2 separate regions of the Homo sapiens genome follow, and region 1 is linked to region 2. Evidence: fine-mapped expression QTL. Tissue or cell type: whole blood. Region 2 holds a variant in brackets; the other region holds the start of a gene. All regions are shown on one strand. Distances are from middle to middle.

Region 1 (8,000 bases), 140 kb before region 2:
GACAGCCTCTCTAGATTCCTCCTTCCTGGGCAGGGCATCTCCAAAAGAAAGGCAGCAGCCCCAGTCAGGGGCTTATAGATAAAACCCCCATCTACCTGGGACAGAGCACCTGGGGGAGGGGTGGCTGTGGGTGCAGTTTCAGCTGACTTAAACATTCCTGCCTGCTGGCTCTGAAGAGAGAAGCGGATCTCCCAGCACAGCACTTGAGCTCTGCTAAGGGACAGACTGCCTCCTCAAGTGGGTCCCTGACCCCCATGCCTCCTGACTGGGAGACACCTCCCAGCAGCGGTGGACAGACACCTCATACAGGAGAGCTCCAGCTGGCATCTGGTGGGTACCCTCTGGGACAAAGCTTCCAGAGGAAGGGGCAGGCAGCAATCTTTGCTGTTATGCAGCCTCTGCTGGTGATACCCAGGCAAACAGCATCTGGAGTGGACCTACAGAAAACTCCAGCAGACCTGCAGAAGAGGGGCCTGACTGTTAGAAGGAAAACTAACAAACAAAAAACAATAGCATCAACATCAACAAAAAGGACACCCACATAAAAATCCCATCAGAAGGTCACCAACATCAAAGACCAAAGGTAGATAAATCCACGAAGATAAGAAAAAACCAGCGCAAAAAGGCTGAAAGTTCCAAAAACCAGAATGCGTCTTCTCATCCGAAGGATCACAACTCCTCACCAGCAAGGGAACAAAACTGGATGGAGAATGAGTTTGATGAATTGACAGAAGTAGGCTTCAGAAGGTGGGTAATAACAAACTCCTCTGAGCTAAAGGAGCATGTTCTACCCAATGCAAGGAAGCTAAGAACCTTGATAAAAGGTTACAGGAACTGCCAACTAGAATAACCAGTTTATAGAAGAACATAAATGACCTGATGGAGCTGAAAAACACAGCATGAGAACTTTGTGAAGCATACACAAGTATCAATAGCTGAATCAATCAAGCAGGAGAAAGGATATCAGAGATTGGAGATCAACTTAATGAAATAAAGCATGAAGACAAGATTAGAGAAAAAAGAATGAAAAGGAACGAAAAAAGCCTCCAAGAAATGTAGGACTATGTGAAAAGACCAAACGTATGCTTGATTGGTGTACCTGAAAGTGATGGGGAGAATGTAACCAAGCTGGAAAACACTCTTCAGGATATTATCCAGGAGAACTTCCCCAACCTAGCAAGGCAGGCCAACATTCAAATTCAGGAAATACAGAGAACACCTCAAAGATACTCCTCGAGAAGAACAACCCCAAGACACATAATCGTCAGATTCACCAACGTGGAAATGAAGGAAAAAATGTTAAGGGCAGCCAGAGAGAAAGGTCAGGTTACCCACAAAGGGAAGCCCATCAGACTAACAGCGGATCTCTCTGCAGAAACCCTACAAACCAGAAGAGAGTGGGGGCCAATATTCAACATTCTTAAAGAAACGAATTTTCAACCCAGAATTTCTTATCTAGCCACACTAAGCTTCATAAGCGAAGGAGAAATAAAATCCTTTACAGACAAACAAATGCTGAGGGATTTTGTCACCACCAGCCTGCCTTACAAGAGCTCCTGAAGGAAGCACTAAATATGGAAAGGAAAAATCAGTACCAGCCATTGCAAAAACAGACCAAAATGTAAAGACCATTGACACTATGAAGAAACTACATCAACTAATGGGCAAAATAGCCAGCTAGTATCATATGACAGGATCAAATTCACACATAATATTAACCTTAAACGTAAATGGGCTAAATGCGCCAATTAAAATACACAGACTGGCAAATTGGATAAAGAATCAAGACCCATTGGTGTGCTGTATTCAGGAGACCCATCTTGTGTGCAAAGAAACACATAGGCTCAAAATAAAGGGATGGAGAAATATTTACCAAGCAAATGGGAAGCAAAAAGAAGCCGGGGTTGCAATCCTAGTTTCTAGCAAAACAGACTTTAAACCAACAAAGATCAAAAAAGACAAAGAAGGGCATTACATAATGGTAAAGGGATCAATGCAACAAGAAGAGCTAACTATCCTAAATATATATGCACCCAATATAGGAGCACCCAGATTCTAAAGCAAGTTCTTAGAGACCTACGAAGAGACTTAAGACTCCCACACAATAATAGCAGACAACTAAAAGGACTTTTCATGGACATAGATGTCTATATTCCAGAGAATGCAGAAATATCTTGGGTGAGGTTCTCATTTGAGGTGTGAAACTATTCACAGCATCACGCCTTTATAGAAACATGGTAATAAGAAGTAATCAGCCCATCATTGAAAATGAAGAGCATTAGAGTGAGTCGCCTCTGTGTCCACTGGAGACTTGCTTTTGTGAACACCTAAGAGGTCTGGGTTTTGTTTTCTAAGGAGGGTAGAATGTTTCTTTTACATACGTACCACATTATTTAAATCTCATTAAGATCCAAGGGAGCAGACATTATTCTCATCCCCATTACAGATTGGGAATGAGAAACTTGTTGAGGTTAAGTACTTTGTCCAAGGTTACATGGATTTGGGATTTGAGCCATCTTGATGCTCTTTTGCTCAAAATTCTGGCTATATATTTTTAAGGCAATCAGAGGGTGAACTTCATTAGGGATTTGAAACAGTTTTAGTTGGTTAGTGGTTCTACTTCAGGTAAGGAATCAAGACAAAAGGGAAATGATTCAAAGAATGAGGGAACTGGGACCCTTTTAAGTTGCAGATGAGGTCATCTGTGTTTGGATCAGAGACCTATAATTTATGTAGATTCACATACATCTTTTTCAGATATGCATACATTGGGGACTGTAGAGTGTTGTGGAACTAAATGTATTTGTATGTGTTCAACACACTGTATAATTGACTCAATTATCCATGTGGAGATTATTCAGATTTAATGTGCAATCTGGTTTCTCCTTTCAGTTAGGTTGTTCTTGGGCTGCTCCAGGAACTCCAACTAATTTAAATAATAATTTAAGTAAAACATAATTAGGAAGGAAAATTAAATTCAATTTTTTGGCAGCTCTTGAATATTCTACTGCTGAAACGTAACTAATCCATCCACTATCTTTTAATTCACCAATGCCTTTTTAGTACCACAGGATTTTACTGCTTTCTATAGATTATTGCAGTAGTTTCCAGGTAGCTCTCCTGCTTACCTCTTTCCATTTCAATCATCATTCTGCTGACAGCAACCTTCAAAAATCCAACTCCCACTGCAAAATTTCTTTGGTTCAAAACATTTAATGGATAGAAAAAACATTTAATGCTTACCCATTTCTCACCAGATTAAGTGCACATGCCACAACCAGTCATTAAAGGCTTTTTCTAGTCTAAATTCCTGTTCTTCAAACGTCAAACCGCCCTTCTACTCTACTGACCTGAAACACACAGCCTCACCCTCCACATCTCTGCAGACCCACCGCATTTGCCACCTGCCCTAGGGAGCTTTTCCTGATCTTACCTCGGATGCCTTTCACTGCTCCCACATCTGAATTCCTTTAACTCACTCCATGTTTTTCTCAAAGGCAGACCAAGGTATTTATGCAAACATGGTGTCTCCCTAGTCTTGGGTGAGGTCTTTGACATCACTCACTGCAGCGATTCATCTCCCCTACTCTGCACTGTCAGACTCTAAAGAAGGGTGCAACAAATACTTGTCCATTTAGACTGCCGGCAAACCCTGAGGGCAGGAATTTTGGCCTTTTGTATCTCCAGTGCCTAGAACAGTGCTTGGTACACAGTAGGCACTCATTCATTGAACGTTGCTGAAGGAATTGAACGTACATACTACAAGCCCTGCAGATGCAGATACAGGAGGGGTTGACGGCACAGTGCTTAGGGTGGAACTGGAGGCACCACCTCTCCTGAGGGGTGATGCGCCGCTTCCTGGGCAGGCTCGGGGGAGCTCGCTCAAATGCCTGCCTCTCTGTAGCCCAAACGCTGGAAAAAAAAATACTCACAAATCACCTATCCAAGTATGTACACACAGGCTCACTTAAACCCGCCCTATTAAAAAAATATACACACGCACACACCATTTATCCAAGTATGTATACACGGGCTTGCTTAAACCTGCCCTATTAAAAATAATAATGTATATATTTATGCACGAACATACACACATATATCTATACAGGTCTGTACATAGACTTGCTTAAACCTGCCCTATTAAATACAGACACACACCCCTATCCAGGTATGTACATACATATATAATATATAAATATAAAGACATATATATGCACAGACTTAACTCCAACACGATTGGAGTGTCGGGAGGGCAACTGGGCTGCCCTCTCCGCCCTCCAGGACTGCGGGACAAGTCTCCCGGCGCCCGGGTCGCAGGAGACCCGGAGCCCTAAAACGGCCCCTGCGCGGCTTGGGCCTTCCGGCTTTCCGTCCGCCGCGGCCGCCATTGGCTGGGTTCGGCGCAGCTAACAGACGGCGGCAGTGCGAGAAAGCCGAAGATGGCGGTCCCCGCGGCGCTGATCCTACGGGAGAGCCCCAGGTAGCTGATCCGTTAAGCTCTTGCGGTAGCCGCGCCCAGGAAGGCCCAGATCGGGCTCGCACAAGGCTGTCCTTGCTGCCTGCCGCCTGGGCGCCGCGGCGGGCCCGGTTGAGTGGGGTGGGGTGGGGTGGGCTGCCGAGGTTGCGACGCTGCGTCTGCGGAGTGCGTGGGGCCGTGTAGCGCCTCTACAGTCACGGTGGTCCACCTGTGGGGCTCACAGTGCGCCTGGCAGCTGAGGTCTGTACGGAAGCGTGTGGTCTGCAAGCGTGGGGTCTGCGTCACTGTTCGCGGAGTTTGGTATCAGAAGTTCCCGGGTGCTGCCTTCAGTGCTGCCGAATCACGTGGAACGGTATTCCGTTTCCGATTTCAGTTCCGGTTCAGACACTCTGGTGGGAAAGGCTCACGCTGCTGCTGGAGGGTCTTTAATAGCCAACATGTGTTAATACCCCTTTTAAATCAGTATCGAATAGGGGACCGAATTTTTGGTTGGTAGAAGAATCTAGCCTGGCTTTGGTAGCATTTGCTTTTATTTGCATTTTAAACAGATTTTTAGTTAATTTCTACTTATGGTAGATAAAGTTGGTTGTCCATGGTAGTGATATAAAGCTCCCCTTTAACATTATTTAAGTAAAAAAAGACTCAATTTGTGAAAAAATAAGCAATAGTGCAGGTAGCGTGTGGATACAGAAAAAGTACTGAAGTATATAGGCAAAATAGTGTTCGGAAGTAATTTCTTTGTGCTTGGATTGGGTAGAAATCTTTCAGAAGAAAAGAGTTATTTTAAAGTTTTTCCTTCTTTCTGGATTCCTTTTGTTACCAGTGGAGGGTGTCCAGGTTCTTGGCGTCTTGAACAAAGAACTGGAGAAGACGCACAAAGAAAGCGAGGAAAGAATGAAGAAGACATTTATTGAAAATGAAACTACCCTCCACAGTGTGGGAGCTGCTTGAGCATAGGGGCTGAAGGGCCCCTACAGAATTTTTGGGAATTTAAATACCCTCTAGAGGATTCCATTGGTTACTTGGTGTACTCCCTATGTAAATGAAGAGGATGAAGTAAAGTTACAAAGTCATTTTCTCCGCCTATGCCATATGGAGAGGACATTTCTTGTCATAGCTGAAGTGGGAATCAGCTTTATGTTCCCAGCCTCCTGACCCTATTTTCCTGCCTCACTTTGGTTCTGATCGCCAGTTTCTTTCCTCATACCAGTGTCTTGGGGAACACCGCTACATCAGTAAACTGTATCCAATATGGTGCAGTATAGAATTGTTCTCATCACATCATTTAAAGTTGATTATTACAGGAAAGGTGCTGTGGCTCATGCCTGTAATTCCAGCACTTTGGGAGGCTGAGGCGGGCTAATCTCTCTCTCTTTTTTTTCCCTGAGAGGGCGTTTCCCTCTTGTTGCGCAGGCTGGAGTGCAATGGCGCCATCTCGGCTCACTGCAGCCTCCGCCTCCTGTGTTCAAGCGATTCTCCTCCCTGAGCCTCCTGAGTAGCTGGGATTACAGGCACCCGCCACCACGCCCAGCTAATTTTTTGTATTTTTAGTAAAGATGGGGTTTCACCATGTTGGCTAGGCTGGTCTGGAACTCCTGGCTTCGGGTGATCTGTCCTCCCTGGCCTTGCAAAGTGCTGGGATTATAGGGGTGAGCCACTGCAGGACTGATTGAGCTCAGGAGTTCAAGACCAGCCTGGGCAACAGGGCAAAACTCTGTCTCTACAAAAAATACAAAAATTAGCCAGCGCTGTGGCCCGCGCATGTAGTTCTAGCTACTTGGGAGGCTGAGGCACAAGGATTCTTAGAACCCAGGAGGCAGAGGCTGTAGTGAGCTGAGATCGTGCCACTGCACTCCAGCCTGGGTGACAGAGTAAGACCCTATCTCAAAATTGATTACTGTTGTAATAATAAATTTGATTTTACAGTTGAAACAGGGTTTTAAAATAACTGTGTGCTTAGTGACCCCAGATGATTTTGTACATAGTATTTGAAAAGTTATTTGCCTTGCAGTATTCTTTTATGTTTTTGGTGTAATTGCCATAATTGCTATTCCTCTCCTCCCACCCCTTTCAGAGTTCCATTTTTGGGTTAAGTGTTTATATAAACGCTCTACTAAATTAAGGCTCTTCCCTGCGCAGTACAAGGTTTCCCTAGTAGTTTGGTTTGCCCAAAAGAAAGAGAAAATTTGCCAAATGGACCTTTTCAGCAGAAGTAATTTTGGGGGCATCTTTTTGGAAATGTACCCGTTGCCCTGCCTTTTTTGCTGGCTGTCATCTGTTTTTATTTCACTCAGATTTACCATATAGCATTCAGAGTTGTTGGAATGAAAACTTATAGACAACTATAGAAAGTGCAGTTCAACTTGGAAAACTCATTTCAAAACTCTGTTTTATAATTTTGTTTAGCATGAAGAAAGCAGTGTCACTGATAAATGCAATAGATACAGGAAGATTTCCACGGTTGCTCACTCGGATTCTTCAAAAACTTCACCTGAAGGTTTGTATTTGTGTGTTTCCATGCCTTGTAATCTTCCTTCTGATTTAATTGAAAGTCTGATTATTTGGAGAACTTTTTGCAAAGCATAGTGTTCTCCAATATGTTCTTAGAGACACTGGTTCTGTGGAAGATTTGGTAATGTTTCATGGTCAGAAGTTTGAGAAACTCTGTCTTCAATAAAGTTAAATGTTTTAAATTATGGAACTTTTCAGAGTATTTTATATGCTAGTGTTTGTGGTATGTATTCGAGGGTGATTATGGCAGGTAACATTTTCCAAATGTGTTTGACCTTGGATCTGTTTTATTATGGTATATATTTTGGGACTAAAGTTCTAAAAATATACTTTAGGGAAAAATTCTGATGTCTTGGTTTTATTTTTCCGCTTAAAAATAATTCTGTGGTATTTTCTATCAACTGGTATTTAATCTTTCACTTAATTTTGTTTCTCTTTCACTTTTATTTTAAGGATATGGTTGTTTTGGACATGTGGATGCTTTGTAATTCTCTACCTGGCCCAATCCAAGTTAATTTAGTTAATTTCTTTATCAGGTTATAAAAATTTGATTCCATCTCATATTTATGGAGCACCCACTAACTGCTCTGTGCAGTGCCATGTATCACCATCCATTGAGAACCAAGACTCTTACTCTGTCATCTTGTTTTTCTTGGCCAAGAGCCAGCCTCAAAACTGTGCCTTTCCCCTTTGAAGTGTCTTTCAAATCCAAGTTCTCACAATTCTAGGTCAAATCTTTAGTACCTCTTTTTTAGATGACAATAGTTACCTTCAAGCTGGTTTCCCTGCCTATAGTCTTCTTGCTTTCTACTGCTTCATAATACTATGTAAATTACTTTCTAAATTTTTTTTCCTGAAACAAAGATGTATTATATTTTTTACAGTGTTCAAAGCCATCAGTGACTGTCCATTGCCCTATGGAGAAAAGTTAGAAATCCTTAACATTGCGTACAAGTCCCATTGTAGTATGGCTGCAGTCTACATTCTCCTCATTTTGTAAGTGCTGCAGTTA
Region 2 (8,000 bases):
TTGAATCTAAACACCAGTCCCTTAATCTTATTACTGAGGATACTCTTGGCTATGTAGTTACTCATGGTTACATTGCTAGTTAGTTACAGAACCCTGGTGAGAGCCTGTGTTTTCAAGATCTCTTAGAAATGCTGTGAAGAAAAGGTCTTAGGTTTAGGTCTTAGTAGTAATTATTTGGTTTGACTTTGGAAAAGTGTAGATACCTGCATCTCCTCACTGTGGGCTATGCACAGATGAAATGTAGCATTATTACGTTTTGAAAGGTGCAGGATAGCTTCTGTTTTTCAACATTATGCTTTAGTTGTTCTAGCCACCATTCTTTATTTAAATGAGTAGGAAGCCAAGAGCAAAGTAAAGATGGATTTTTGGAGTCCTTTGCTTATTTTCCCACATTTTTTCTTACCAGAGAACACATAACATAGACAGGTAGATAGGAAGGGAGGGAGGTAGATAGGCAGGCAGTTCAACCAGAAAAAAATCAAGCCTGTTTTAGCAGGTTGTGAAAAGATGAACTGAATCTGTCAATGTCCGCATCTTCTTTAGTTACCAGGAGTGGATGTGGGTAAGCCTTGGTGCAGCAGATAATACTGATAAGTGTATATGTTCCAAATAGAGATGTGGTCATAGGAGGAAAAAGAATGTTAATGCCATCTGGGATGTTAAGAAGTTAGGGAAGGACACAGAGCATAATTGAGATGAAATTGTAACTTCTTACTCTCTTCAGTGATAGTCAAATCTAATTTAAGTCTGTTACTCTATTCTCATGAAAACATTCTCAAGAGTTGAAGAAAATAAATAGTAAGGCAGTCTGTATGGACCTTAACAAAACTTAGTTTTGACTATTGGAATTAAATTTTAATATTTTAATTTGGAAATCTCATCCTGAAATCTCTTTTGGTAAAAACATGGAATCTTTTTAGTATGAATTAGAATTATTCTGGTCAACAATTATAGTTTCTGTACCCATTAGGGTATCAAAGTCTTATATTCAAATTATATTAAATTGACTCATTGACTCATCTAGTTCAGTGGGAATATGATTTTAGAAGTAGAATAAAGTCTACTTGTATTTGTAAAGTTGACACTATGTTTTATGAGGGAATTTAATGTTCTTTTCAGGAACATGAGGCTGGACAGAAAGATAATCTTACAAGAAATTATCTCAGTTTTTCATTTTGGCCTTTTGTTCACAAAAGAGCTAGAATTCAAAAGAAAACAACATTTAGCCTATTTATTTATTTGTTTATTATTTTTTGAGAGGGAGTCTTGCTCTGTTGCCCAGGCTGGAATGCAGTGGTGCCATCTCGGCTCACTGCAACCTCTGCCTCCCAGGTTTAAGCGATTCTCCTGCCTCAGCCTCCCAAGTAGCTGGGACTACAGTTACATGCCACCACGCCTGGCTAATTTTTTGTATTTTTGGTAGGGACAGGGTTTCACCATGTTGATCAGGCTTGTCTTGAACACCTGACCTTGTGATCCACCCACCTCAGCCTCCAAAGTGCTGGGATTACAAGTGTGAGCCACTGCGCTCAGCCGCCCTTTTTAATACTATGGTTATTTTAGTTGATATCTTCAGATTGCTCTTGATTGGAGTATATAAAATATGTCATAGATTGTGTTATTTTAATTTTACTTGTCTATGTTCTTATTTCTTTGAAGTTGCTATTTTTCACTATATTTTGCTGTCACCTATAAATTATAAATATTAGTCTTAACAGAAGTCAGATATTTTCTATATTGGATTTTTTTTTGAAAAAAAGGAGATAGGATAAAATGTAAGGAAATCAAATCTAGGAACTAATTTAGAAAAGTCAGAGGATTTTTATTTAGTATTGAGAAGTATAAGATAAGTTAAATGTATACACCAGAGAAAAAAAGTTCTTATTACAATGTAATATGTGGAACAAAAAAAAATAGTAAGGATATGGCTATCTATATTTTATTTTAATGTTTATTTAACAAATATTTACTCAGCTCCAAATTAGGTACTAGAAACTGTCTCAGACTCTGGGAATATATTTCCACACATCCTGGTCAATGAAACATTAAATTTCTAATTAGAAATTTTAGAAGTTCTAAGAAAGCAAAAAGCTCATGGTGCTTTTGGAACATAGTCCAGGGAGATTTAACCTAATCCAGAGAAGCTCGGGAAAAATTTGTGCCAGACTATAAGGTGAGACCGTAAGGTTGAGTCAGAGAGGGACAGAAGGGGTTTGGAGAGAATGTTATTGGAGTGTAGGAATAGTATGTTCAAAAACTCTGAAGCGACTATAATGTATTGTAAGATACCCTGAAAGAAGTTCATGATCGTAGGAGTGGAGGCAGTGAGAAGAGGTGAAGCCAGACTGGAATGGTTCAAAGGCAACACTTGAAATTACCTGATTAAAATAAGGCACTCAACATAGCCTTAAGAATGAAGGTTATTCCATTTGGTATTCTTTGCTGAACTGCTTAACAGTATTTTTATGTTTCCATGTGCTGAATTCATTTTATAAATTTTTTTAAAAGTAATGCATGTGTTTGGAGCAGCATTATAAGACCATGGAAATGGTTTTACTGTTTGTCTCTTTTACGTTTTTTAAGAACAAAGCTTCCATTTTCCACTTCCATCTCTTGGACTATTCATTTAACGGTGATCTTTCTGTTTCTTAATCCAGGTTCTAAGGATTCTGGGGTTGGTAGTTTAACTCTTAATCCTTTTAAAAAATTGAACCAATGTATCTTTTCAATGAGAAATAGTTCATAAATCTTGCTACTCAAATAAATCATGAGTCTATATGAGGACTTCAGTTGGGAATTCGTTTATTCCTGTTCACTAGAATTAGGAAACTCTATGTAGATAGGAGCCATCTCTGTGTTTACTTACTGTCTCTACAGTTCCCAGCCATTGCCTAGTATATTAATCCATTTTTGTTGGTATAAAGGAATATCTGAGACTGGGTAATTTACAAAGGAATGATATTTATTTTGGCTCATGTTTCTGCAGACTGTACAGGAAGTGTAGTGCTCTCATCTGCTTCTGGTAAGGCCTCAGGAAGCTTACAATCATGGTGGAAGGCAAAAGGGGAGTTGGCATATCACATGGTGAGAGGAGGGAACAAGGGTCCGGGGCCGCGGTGCCGCACTCTTTTAAACAACCAGATCTCATATGAACTCAGAGCGAGAACTCATTTATTGTGAGGACAGCACCAAGCCATTCATGAGGGATCTTCCCCCAAGCCCCAAACACCTCCCTCTAGGCCCACCTCCAGCATTAGACATCCTATTTCAACATGAGGTTTGGAGGGGACAAAACATTCAAACCGTATCACCCGGGATATTGTTGATGAAGTATTTGTTGATTGAATTAATACTAAATTTTGTTGGCATTACATTTTATTTTGACTTTAAATGCTGATGAGTATTTGATAGTTCATGGTTCTGTGATAACATTTAGGCTTGTAGTGAATAAAACATTACAATATTGTTTAAATCTTTTCTTTTACATTTAAATAAAAGATGGATAAGAATGTTACTTTAACATTTTATATAATATCCTTTAACAATCTGTAGGCTAATCTTTAGTTTATGGGGCTTCTAACCCATAATGCAGTTGTACTGATTCTTTTGCCATTTCCAATTTGTTGCTGTGACCATTTGGTGAATATTTTATTTCACTTATTATACTTTTTAGATCTAGAGTTTTCTGTTTTTGTTGTTTCTTTTTTTCTCTTGAGATTTATTCTGTGTTCACTCACTGATAGCATATTTTTCTTCAGTTCTTTGAATATATTTATAATAGCTTTTTTGAATTACTTTACTTGCTAAATTCAATGTCTGAGCCCAGTTAGAGTCATTTGTATTGAGTGTATTTTTTCTTAAGTAATTTCCTGAAGACTTTCCTGTTTGTTTTTTTGGGG[A/ATT]TTTTTTTTTTTTTTTTTGCATATGTAGAAATTTCTGGTTGAAAACTAGACATTGGGAAACATATGGTGAAATGACTCTGGGTTCTGTCATATTCTTTTGAGGACCTTGGTTTTTTGTTCTAGTAGGCAATTAACTTCCTTGGGTTGAAACCACAAACTGTCTCCTGTGAGGTATTCAGCTTACACCTTTCCTCTGCTGCTTTGTTAGCCTGAACACCTATAGGTCCCCCTTGTATATGCACAGTGTGGTAGCCCAAAGATTTTGGCAGATGCTCATCTTCTTTGTTGTTTCTTTGTGTCTCAGAATTTCCTCCTAATTGACAGTAGCCATGCCAGCTTTGGGCCCTATACTCTGACACATCAAGCCTGTCTAGATTCATCTTTCTACCACTCAAGCTGTAAATGATTGAAAAATGTTCTCAGTTAATAAAAGAATCACAGATTCTAAAATCTTGTTTTTTTTTTTTTCTCTTCCTGCTTTTTCACTAGGCTTCATAGGCCTCCCTTGCTCATGTGTAAATTTTGTTGTCAGCTAGGAATTTGTGTAGCTTGTGCTCTGAATTTGAGTCTCGTGCCTTCTGTGATTAGCTTGGTGCTAACATTTTTCCTTTAAATTTTCAGCTCTTTTTCCAGCTCTCCACTCCAAGTTCTAGCATCTTTAGCCAGTGCGATGCCATTTTTTTCTTCTCCTTTTTTGTAGCTGTAGCTATGGAGTTTGGTCAGTGCCTTGCAGCCAGTATGAACTCTCAATTCTTACCCCTTCTAGTTTTCAAAATAAAACTCTCTTCAGCCTTATGTCTGCATTTGAAAGTTTGAAGTATCTTCAAGTAGTTTGTTTGCTTTAATCTAGTATCTTATTATTGGTATCTCTGGGGTTTTGTATGACCACGTCAGTTTTTCAGCATGATCAGAAGTTAAACTACTTCATCCCTATTGATTTCAAATAGTACATTTAAAACAAGGGCTTCTAAACATTCAATGAAATTCAAATGATGTTTTAGACATTAACTTACACCTCAACTCTTCCAAATTTGTAAGTTCATGTTTGCACTTTGTACTTCCCTTTTTTTTTTTTTTTTGAGAACAGCAAATTATATTTCAGCTGATGGACTTTCCTCAGTTTCTGTTAATTACATGTGTGTCTCTATTTAGTAGTGCATTTAGAGTCACTATTTTTCACTGCTGCAGATATCTAGACATTTGATTGGAAAATAGTTCGGCATTGAACTTAGTAGCAATATTGGGGGACTTGGGACTAAAAAGCACCAATCAACTTAGAAAACCAAGCCCTGTAGTAACACAAGGGAAAAAAAAAATTCCTGAAGCCAATACCTTGGGAAATAAAGATAATAGAAATGAAATCATCTAAGTAGATGGCCTTAATATTTCTGGACATGTTCCATAACCCTCACAGGTAACAGTGGACTGGCATCTGGGAGACAGGACAAAACATAAATGTGGAATTTCAAGGATATTCCTATTTTCTGTTAAAGTTGCAGGAAGTATGAATTACTAAAGACTTTACATATGGTCAGATTGCTGAGTTTCAGTTTCAAATATTAAACACTCTTTTTCAGACGTTCTCCCATTTCACTCTCATTTCATATGAGTTCATATTATTTTATGCCCCAGGCCCGAAGTGTAGATAAGTTTACTGCTCCATTGTATACTGTTTATCTGATTCACTCTCCCCCTCTTTTGCCTTCTGGTGTTACAGAGTGGTAAGCAGGAAAGCAGGGTCTGTATCTATCTGTGCTATAGGTTCACTATCCTTGCCATAAATTAAGTTGATCGCTTAAAAAGTATCACTACTTTAGCACTAGATTTAGCTCGCTTTTAACAGAAATTTCATGGTGATCTTTTCTCATTTCAAGGCCCTTGAAATAAGGGCCTTGTTTTCTCGTTAATGGAGCATCTCATTCTCCTTCAACAGGGCTTGATTTCCTTTGAACAAACATTATTCTTACCAATAATTCTGATAACTTTCTGGTAATTTAATTGTGGTTATCCAGCCTCTTTATTCTCCATCAGTTCATTTTAGATATTCTTCTGATTTCCTTTTGTCTTTCACAAGATCTTTGAAATCCCATTTTCTCTACATCTTTAATATGACCTGAAAAAAATGTTTGTTCAATTTATACATCCTGCCACAAAATAGTACTCTGCTTCAAATTCCACATTTATGTTTTGTCTCCTCTGCCACAGGTAATAACCCGTCCACTATTACCTGTGGGGGTTATGGAACATGTCCAGAAATACTAAGGCTGCCCACTTAGGTGATTTTATTCTTATTATCTTCATTTTCCAAGGCATTGGCTTCAGGATGTTTTTTCTCCTTGTGTTTTCTGACTTGATTGGTGATGCCGAGCATTCACACAGCTTTTCAGTTTCTCAGCTTAGAAGCAAGGAATGTTAAAAAGTTACTATCAGTGCCTTTAATCATGAAAAAGACAAGTAGAAGGAATTAGTTCTCTCACCCAGGGACATCAGTGTGTATGTATACCAGTGGGAACCAGACATCGTGTCTAGGTAAAATCACTTATCACACTGCAGCTAATTTTTTCACCTGGTAATTTTAGCCAAACTAGGTCATGTTATAAATGTCAGCAAGGCAAAAGAGAGAATAAAATGTCATCAGAATAATGCACATACATTTCAATGGAGGTTAAAATCTTTTATAGGAAACAGGATTATGAGGTAGGAGATTTTTTTCATTGCAGCAGTGAATGTGAATACAGTTACTATGATTCTTAAGGTATTCACTTTGGCCTCATTCCTGCTTTCTTTAAATTAGAAAAAATATCTCAAGTTTGCTTACAGGTAAGAGTTTTAAGCCAAATAAATAACAGTTATTGTAGTGATTTGGTTGAAAAATAAACTTCTAATTCCCCTTTAAAAACTGAGAAGAAATGAAATATAGTGCAACGTCAGCCACAAAATCATTATTTTGATAGCTAACATCATTTGTATTCTAGGCTAGAATTTTAAAATTTAAAGTTCAAAAAATAAAATTTTATTCACATTGTTGATTTTGCCCAATGACACAAGCTATATGTTAATATTAAATTAATATAGACAAATTAAAGAAAGTACCACATTTATCACTTTCATATGTAGTAATTTTTATTTCAATAACCAGAATTGTAGGTTTCAAAAAATGTTTGAAAATTTGCTTTAATTAATAGTTTTGACAAAGAACCTTTAATAGACCGCTGCTTTTCTTTTCAAAGTTTCAGTTAAACCTGAAGAAATAATATGGTCCTGCTGTGATTTTTGAATGAATGCTTTTGTGGTTGCATAAATTGTGTTTTTTCATGAATATTAGGATTGTAAATGAAAATTAAGTCTGGATTCTGATCCTTTTCCTTTCAAGCTTATTAAAATAAGATCTTTTAGGATCACTGTGACTCTCTCCTTGTTAGTTTTATGTCATAACTTAGCCCTGATTATAAACAAACTTTAACTGTTTCTTAATTCAGTTTTTTCTTTTGTCATGAGCAAAGAAAAATTACTGAAATAAATAAGCATTGAGACATATTCTTGTAGTTGAAAACTTAGTGTGGGAATCATATTTTTGACTCCCAGCTCAGGATAGTATTAGGTAGGGTAGATTATTTTATCTTCTTGTAAAATAGTGTAAAATAAATATTTGCCTATAGACATTACAGTTTAGAGTAGAGAAGTTTCACATTAGAAAGATGCTGATTCGTCTTTACATTTAGGCATAAAAGAGGGAGTACATAGAGAGCATTTATAATTTATCTACTTTAAACATAATTATTTTTTATTATTTCCCTTTGCACTATTTTTAATCCTACTCATAGAATGAAAGATGAGGCATTGAACTTGTATCTAAGATTGATGATTTGTTTTGAGTCTGGGGCAGACAGACACAGTAATGGCTTAGTCTGATACAGGCATTTTGGGTTCAGTCTCTAGGGACAGGTATTCATATGTAATAAAACCACTTGAACTGGCATTGATTGCCATTGTTGATAATCCTAGCAGGATCAACATTGATTGAGTAAATAAAAAGATCGAATTTACCTTCTTCTGGCAAGGCAGGCAGAGAAGCAGGACAAAGCATAAAGACTTGACAGC

What was found. PIP is the estimated chance that this variant, and not a neighbour inherited with it, causes the effect.
Region 1: COMMD10 starts here. The variant in region 2 is fine-mapped to the expression of COMMD10 in whole blood (INTERVAL, PIP 0.94).

Annotation. Positions count from the first base shown.
Region 1 is chr5:116,080,614-116,088,613 of GRCh38, forward strand. COMMD10 (COMM domain containing 10) reads left to right here and starts at 4,412. Exons shown (of 7, transcript NM_016144.4): 1 at 4,412-4,480; 2 at 6,884-6,974. The coding sequence starts at 4,440. RefSeq lists enhancers at 4,206-4,365, 4,659-4,953.
Region 2 is chr5:116,221,455-116,229,454 of GRCh38, forward strand. The region is part of intron 5 of COMMD10 (COMM domain containing 10); the gene reads left to right. Among named protein-coding and RNA genes, the nearest start is that of MIR12130, 30 kb to the right of the region's middle. The variant A/ATT (reference allele first, on the strand shown) is at 3,900.